Regions from separate parts of the Homo sapiens genome. Here all the other regions are linked to region 1. The links come from fine-mapping of genetic effects on gene expression. A gene starts in region 1. Each other region holds a variant in brackets. All regions are shown on one strand. Distances are between the middles of the regions.

The links.
Region 2: its variant is fine-mapped to the expression of RDH12 in sun-exposed skin (GTEx, PIP above 0.99).
Region 3: its variant is fine-mapped to the expression of RDH12 in thyroid (GTEx, PIP above 0.99).

What each region holds. Positions count from the first base shown.
Region 1 is chr14:67,700,714-67,703,479 of GRCh38, reverse strand. RDH12 (retinol dehydrogenase 12) reads right to left here and starts at 1,594. Exons shown (of 9, transcript NM_152443.3): 1 at 1,545-1,594. It also overlaps a transcript of GPHN not described here.
Region 2 is chr14:67,721,449-67,724,214 of GRCh38, reverse strand. RDH12 (retinol dehydrogenase 12) reads right to left here. Exons shown (of 9, transcript NM_152443.3): 3 at 1,505-1,791. The coding sequence starts at 1,572. It also overlaps a transcript of GPHN not described here. Among named protein-coding and RNA genes, the nearest start is that of RDH12, 21 kb to the right of the region's middle. The variant C/A (reference allele first, on the strand shown) is at 1,196.
Region 3 is chr14:67,849,415-67,852,180 of GRCh38, reverse strand. The region is part of intron 4 of RAD51B (RAD51 paralog B); the gene reads right to left. Among named protein-coding and RNA genes, the nearest start is that of RAD51B, 31 kb to the right of the region's middle. The variant C/G (reference allele first, on the strand shown) is at 1,427.

The sequences.
Region 1 (2,766 bases):
TGAGATAAAGCTCACTGTTTATAGTATTACTAACTTAAGAAGACTTAGAAATTTTGTTTTTCTTATACGATTCAGCCAGTTCAAGCTAAAATGTTAACATTAAAAACCTAACTCTAAACTCATTTGAAACTGAATAAAAGGATAAAAGATTTTTAAAATAAAACTGCCATCGAACTACCTTACCCAAAAATTTTGGCTCACAGCCTTCATTAGATTACCTATTGGGACAAATAAAATTTAGCCATGTGAACTAACAGGTCCCAATTTTTTCCAAAAATAATTTAGATCCAACTATCTTTTATAAACTGGTGAGTTTGTATTACTATCTCATGACTAAAATTCTAAAATGAAAACTATAAGGGCCAGATGAGGTGACTCATGCCAGCAGTCCCAGCACTTTGGGAGGCCAAGGTAGGAGGATCATTTGCGCCCAGGAGCTCAAGACCAGCCCTGGCAACATAGTGAGACTCTGACTCTACAAAAAAAAAACTTTTTTAAGTTAGCTGGGCATGGCGGCACGCACCTGTAGTCCCAGGTACTCAGGAGGCTGAGGTGGGAGAATCACTTGAGCCTGGGAGGTCCAGGCTGCAGTGAGCCATGGTCATACCACTGCTCTCTACCCTGGGCAACAGAGTGAGGCCCTGTTTCAAAAGACAAATCAAAAAATAAAGGTATAAGATCTCTATTTGTGCATATATATGTGTGTTTAGATGTGTTTACATATATACATGTAATATGTTATATGTTGTATCTACATGATACCCAATTGACTTATAGATAAATGAGCACTCATAAATTAGTAAGCCCAAAGGTTTTCCAAGTTCACATGACTTAAGTAATTCTTTAATAAATAAACTGGCTTTAAAATTATTAGTAAAATAAATATTAAAATGTCTTCAAAATTGTCAACATACATATTTGCCTAGATTTATGGTCAGATTTATACTTGTCTTATTAAATATTTTACAGGGTCAGGATTTGGCACAAAGGTAAAAAACTATGAACCCAGCCAAAACCAAAATAATCTTTGTGTGATTTTTTTTATAAGTAAGACTAATTTAATATTGTTGGTTTAAGAAATACAGCTAAACCTTCTGAGTTATCAACAAAATACCCATGTATTTAACTTTAAATTTCTTGCTTAGGTAAATATCTGACATTCACAGGCTATAAAAATGGTTAATAGAAAAAAACTTAAAAAACTGAGCACAGGCCAGGCATGGTGGCTCATGTGTGTAATCCTAGCACTTTGGGACCCTAAGGTGGGAGAATCACTTGAGCTCAGGAGTTTGAGACCAGCCTGGGCAACATAATGAGATCTCATCTCCATTTAAAAAATATATATATATTAAATTTTTAAAAAAGCTGGGCACAGTGGTTCATGACTGTTATCCTAATGCTTTAGGAGGCCAAGGCAGGTGGATCATTTGAGATCAGGAGTTCAAGACAAGCCTAAGCAACATAGTGAGACACTGTCTCTACAACACAGTGAGATACTGTCTCTACAAAAATTTTGAAAATTAGTCTGGCATGGTGGCACTTACCTGTAGTCCTGGCCACTCAGGAAGCTGAGAAGGGAGGATTGCTTGTGCCCAGGAGTTGAGGTTACGATGAGCTGATCATGCCACTGCATGATAATAATTTATTACATGGTAAATTATTTTCCTAAAGCAAAATGACAGGTTAATTATAAAAGAGAAAGGGTAGGGCAAAACAAAAGTTCAAACATGTCATAAATAGTCTACAGAAATCATAATAGGCCTGGCGTGGTGACTCATGCCTGTAATCCCAGCACTTTGGGAGGCTGAAGTGGGCGGATCACAAGGTCAGGAGTTCGAGACCAGCACAGCCAAAATGGTGAAACCTCATCTCTACTAAAAATACAAAAAGTAGCCAGGTATGGTGGCGCATGCCTGTAGTCCCAGCTACTCGGGAGGCTGAGGCGGGAGAATCACTTGAACCTGGAATGCGGAGTTTGCAGTGAGCCAAGATAGTGACACTGTACTCCAGCCTGGGCAACAGACTCCATCTCAAAAAAAAAAAAAAAAAAAAAAGAAATTATAATAAAGTTCTTTAAAATTTTTTTAAATGTATATGTGATTAAGTTGGCTATAATCAAAAAAAAGTTATAAGTGTTTCTAAAGATTGAGATTTTGGTCCTCTATGTTAAAATAACATTGTCTTAAAGTATAAATTTGCTCTTAGTGAATTACAAGAGCTTTTGATTTTAAATTCTACAATCTATTTCTTTTCTAAAACTTCTCAAATTTATATCTCAAAAAATTCTACTTGTGCTATACCTCGCTGCACATGATTCCCAAGTCATGAATCGTTGTTGTTCGTTCTTTATACCCTTAAAAAGATACATGTTTTTCTTGGTTGAAATGATAATCCTCTCCTTCAACCTTTTTGTCAACTTCTGTAATCTTTGACTTTTTTTTTTTTTTTTTTTTTTGAGATGAAATTTTGCTCTTGTCACCCAGGCTGGAGTGCAGTGGCAAGATCTCCGCTTACTGCAACCTCCGCCTCCCAGGTTCAAGTGATTCTCCTGCCTCAGCCTCCGAGTAGCTGGGATTAGAGGCATTCGCCGCCGTGCCCAGCTAATTTTTGTATTTTTAGTAGAGACAGAGTTTCATCATTCTAGCCAGCCTGGTCTTAAACTCCTGACCTCAGCTGATCCACCCGCCTCGGCCTCCCGAAGTGCTGGGATTGCAGGCATGAGTCACCATGCCCAGCCAACTTCTGTAATTTTTTTTTTTTTTTTTG
Region 2 (2,766 bases), 21 kb before region 1:
GGAGTCAGGGCCAATGGAGACTTTCCTTGTTAGATAATAAATACATCTAGCTCTTATCTCTAGAGGTTCCAGAGGAAAGCTTTCCCCTCTAACCTACATTCAAAACATATGCATGATAAACATTAGCGGAGTCAATATTCAGTAACCATCATCATGAGTAACTGATGAACAGCACTCTGTGGGGGGTGGCACACACAGGTACTGCTCTTAGCACTCTGGGGGATGGCATACACAGGTACTGATCTTAGGCTGCCTCTCCAGTTTTAGGGAGTGGGTCATTTCCGAGGCTTTCAGCCATTGTATTAGAGATTTCATTCTGGCCGATGGCAAACAGAGAGAAAACCTCCTTTGTTCAGACCTCTGTGCAGAGAGCACTCTTTTACATGAAGTTGACTTCACAGGTCCTAAAACAGAATACGGAGGGGCAGAACTAACATTTCCTGCACATCATCTGACTGCCAATTACTAGTCTAGGCACTTTCCATATGTAATTTATTTTAATCCTCTCAACTTCTCCAGTATTATTTCCACATTACAGTAGAGAAAACTGAGGCTCAGGGAGGTTCATGTCACATAGTGGTGGCAGAAGTGGGACTTGAACCCAGATCTCTATGGAGAACCTAGAATAACACTGTCCTTGGTAGGTCCATTTAACCTCCTTTATCATAAGAAATTTTTTAGGCTGAGCCCAGTGGCTCATGCCTGTAATCCCAACATCTTGGGAGGCCAACGTGGGATGGTCGCTTAAGCCCAGGAGTTTGAGACCAGCCTGGGCAACATAGTGAGACCCCCATCTCCACAAAAAATTTAAAAAGTAGCTGGGTGTAGTGGCACCTGCCTATATTCCCAACTACTTGGGAGGCTGAGGCAGGAGGGTTGCTTGAGCCCAAGAGTTCAAGGCTGCAGTGACCTATGACTACACCAATGCACTCCACCCTGGGGTGACAGAGCAAAAATTAAAAAAGAGAAATTTAAAAATTCTCCACTCAGAACACACTTTTATTTGACACCTCTAGAAATCCCACAGCAAAAAAGCCATCCCAAAACATTAATTGAGGGTAGTCTCAAAGGCAGAAGAGTTTGTTTCTTTCCCAAACTACCTGGTACTTAACAGCATGACAAGCCAGCAGGGCCACCCTGAATAGGGACAGAGTCTCCGAGTTCTTCAGAGACACCCAAAGGAATAAAATGAAAA[C/A]GCAAGGACTCCCACCTAAGGTGTTTGTTGAGCTACTTGACAGAGTCATCCATGCAGCCTTCCGCTGGCAGTAGAACTCTCCCCAGAGCTCAGGTGGGGCCAGAACTCAGCCCCACCTCTGCCCGGCCGCAGATGCTTCCTTCTGGTTTTCCACCATGGTATCCACAACACCCCCTTCCTTCCTGCTTTTCCTGCCCTGACTTTCTCCTCTGTCAGCCTCCTTCCCTTTCTCTTCTTTCAGCAGCTGAGAACCGGCTTCCAGTGCAGGTCTTTGTAAACGATTGTTTGAGTTGCTGAATTAAGACAAACCTGATGGATGGAGCTACCATATACAGGAACGAGAAGAAGGAGGTGAGCAGTCCCAAGGTGACCAGCATCGTTCCAACTTCTGTAGCTGCTGTTGCTTTTGCTGCTGCTCCAGCTTCAACCCCAGCTCTGGCTCAGGTTCCTGGTCTGGCTCCAGCTCTTGGCTGCTTCTGCTGCTTCTCTGCTCCTCTCCGTCCTGGGTGCTGAGCAGCAGCCTGACTCTGAGCAGAGCCCAGAATCCTATTTAAATCCAAGAGCTGTCAGAGCACAGCCTGCTGGGAGATGTAGTCCTGGTGGGGAGGGGATGGAGTCAAGGTTTGAAGCTTACTTAGGTTTACTGGCAAAGAGAATGTGGGGAAACTAAAGCAAGTACCCCCTAAACCCCCCATCCTCAATTGTTTCTCTTCTCTAGGAAATGTGTTCTCCCAACCACTGCCACCTCTACTGCAAGATGGAATATATAGAATATTTCTAACTTTAGCCACAAACCCCATGATGCTTAAAATATGAGTGGATTAAAATAGGATGGGAAGGAAACTCCCAGAAGAATGGAGAGAGACGTCAGAAGAGCAGTTAACCTTAGGGAGGAGGGGGCAGTGACTGGGGAGGGAGATGACTGGAACTCCTGGAGGGCTGAGAGTGCTCTGCTCTTTCATCTGGGTGCTAGTACATGGGTGTGCTCACTTTATGAAAATCTGCTGAGTCGTATGCTTTCGACTTGTGCACTTTTCTGCATTTTATATTTTACTTCAATGAAGTTAACACACGCACATGCATATTACAAGGAAAGGTATGGTGTTTAAGTGCATGGACTCTAGCGCTGAATCTATTTAAAAGCTCCACGGCCCTGGGCAAGTTACTAAACCTCTCTGTTAACTCAGTTTTCTCACTTGTACAATGGGTATGATTATATATATAATATATGGTTTTATATATATATGTGTTATACATATATATATATATATATATATATATCCCCACTTGTTCTAAGTGTTCAATTATTACATTGGTGGAAAACGAAACTGGCATATGCTAAACAGTATATAAGAGTCAGCTGTTATGGTTAGCTGTTCTGATTCGTATCTCCCTTGCTATCTCACTTGCTTTACTCAAGGCCATGGTGTAGAAAAGGGAGAGATGATGAACGTGGGTGATGTTTCAGTTGAATGCTATTGAAGATGAGGAGAAATACAAGAAAATGCTGGTAAAGAGCCCAAGGTAGGGGGATCCCTTGAGGCCAGAAGTTCAAGACTGAGCTTAGGCAA
Region 3 (2,766 bases), 150 kb before region 1:
AGCACTCTGGTCAGTCGGTCACGGCTCTGGCTCTGTATTTCACTGGGTCAGAGCTCCCGGAGGTAACTGACAGGCCCACTGCAACTGCCTCTGTCAGGTCCTTGCTCCTGCTGCTCTCAGGCTGGGGAGGGAGTGAAGAGCCTGAGAGTAAGTAGACCTCCAGCAGGATGCAGCTGCCTTGAGAGTAAGTAGACCTCCAGCAGGATGCAGCTGCCTTCAGGAAAGGTGGCCAGACTCTTTGCTCTCAGAGGCCCAGCCCCTGCTGCTCCTTACAGGGCAGGGCCTCCTGACTTGGGCCGCCAGCACAGGCACCCCTACCCCCACATAATCACTTCAGTGAGTAGCAGCTCTGTTTCTCTAGGGTGGAGCTTCCAAAGGCAACTGACAGGCCCTCTGCCACTGCAGCTGCTGCAGTACCCATCCTTGCTACTTCTAGGCTAGGGAGGGAACAAAGGTGCTTTCAAGCACCTCCATCAGCAGAGAGGAGTACCCAACCTGCTCCCCATTCCCTCTTCCCAGGTACACCCCCCATCACCATCACTCCCAAAGGCAACTGAACAGGTCCTCTGCCGTGGCCACCCCTGCTGCCCCCAGGCTGGGGAGAGAAACTCCAGTGCCAGCAGCTACCCTTCAGAGAGGTGGCCAGAATGCTTTCCACATGACCCCCTTCCTCCACTGCCCACTCCCCAACCAGGACTGCTGCCTTCTGGCTTCTACTGCACATAGCCGACCCCTACATGAGCATTTCAGTCATGGCCCAAAGCCCTGTCGAAAACCTTACCCCCATAGACCTGTGATCTTCCCTAGGGCTCCCACCGCCTAAGTGCCCTGCCTGAGAGTTTAGCCCCTCACCCAGATATCAGCCCTCACCCCTTCCCATCACAGCCAGGACCTGAGGCTCCCCAACAATCCAGCCCCATCAAGACTCATAGAGGAAGTCCAGCCAGCCATCTAGGGACTAACTAGGGACTTACAGATCTCCCTACCCTATTCCAATTTTGCTAGTACTTTACCACATCTCCCATTGCCTGAGGTTGAACCGACGCAACCAGCCAACACCACCAAAACCAACACACCCCTGCAGAGGCCCAAAGAAGGAGTCCCCCAACCCCGCTCTTAAATGAAGAAGAGTCATCACATTGGAGAGCAGAGGAGCCACACAGCTACCTATATTAAGCTAAGTGATGAAGTTCTGCCCCAAAAACCACTCCCCTGGAGAGTCAAAAATTAGACATTTCCTAAGGCTCTCAACCACATGGTGGTCTGGAGATAGGCTGCAGTGTGTGTCTGATCCAGGAGTCAAGAGCTCTAGAACAAGGGTGTGACTGGGCAACAATCTACATTCCAGTCTATCTAGAAGGGGCTTGTGTAGCACCCCAAACCCCCACAGAGACTGTGGCACAATTCACTGGGAGCTTTTCCTAGC[C/G]ACCCTCATCAGGGTTGGGGACTACACTTCTACATTTGACATAGGGGTATTTGTGGACAAGCCAGGTTATCCACTCTACCCAGCTATGTCCCCAGCACTCCCGTAAAATAGGAAGTACATGGTATGCAGCCCTCCACAGTCTAGCCTATCACCTGGAACAACAGAGAGTTCTTCACAGTAAACAAATACCAAGTACATAACTGTCTGCTTCCACCACAGCTGACTCTCACCCGTAAGCATCATCTACTGGCCCGTAGGTTGAACTCCACAGCCCAATATACAACCTGCTGCCAGAACAGAAGGCCATGGAAACAAAGACAAAAGACCCTACTCGACATACTCTTAAGTCACACCCTTTAGTGAGTGGGGGAAGGAAAGGGGGAAAAAACAATAATAATACAAGAAAAGAAAGGGAAAGAAAACCCTACCTGCATGAAAATATCTACAAAAATTTGAAGTGCCAGCCAGGCACGGTGACTCATGTCTGTAATCCATCCCAGCACTCCAACCCTGGAGGCCAAAGCAGGAGGATTGCTTGAGCCCAGGAGTTCAAGACGACGGTGGGACACTGTCTATACAAATAATTAAAAAATTAGCCAGGCATGATGGCACACGCCTATAGTCCCAGCTACTTGGAAGGCTGAGGTGGGAGGATTGCTTCAGCCTGGGAGGTCGAGGCTACAGTGGGACATGATTCACTGTACTTCAGCCTGTGCAAAAGAGTGAGAACCTGTCTCAAAAAACAAAAATTTAGAAGTGCCAACACCTACAAATGAGAAGGAAGCAACATAAGAATGCTGGCACCAGAAAAATCCAATTTTTGTAACACCACCAAAGAATCACAGTAGCTCTCTAGGAAAGGTCCCCAACCAAAATGGAAACTCAGAAATGTCAGATAAATAATTCAAAGCATGGATTGGAAGAAACTCAAAGATATAAAAGAAAAGACTGAAAATCAACACAAAGAATCTAATAAAACAATCCAGGAAATGAAAAAGGAGATAAACATCTTAAAAAGGAATCAATTAGAGCTTCTGGAACTGAAAACTTCACTTTATGATTGCCAAGCTGTTGAAAATTTTATCAACAGACTAGACCAAGCAGAAAAAAATAATTACAACTGATATTTCAAACTAACACATATAGACAAAAGTCAAGAAAAAACAATTTTAGGCCAGGTGCAGTGGCTCACGCCTGTAATCCCAGTGCTTTGGGAGGCTGAGGTGGGAGGATCACCTGAGATCAGGAGTTTGAGATCAGCCTGACCAACATGGTGAAAACCCATCTCTACTAAAATAATATAAAATTAGCTGGGTGTGGTGGCGCATGCCTGTAATCCC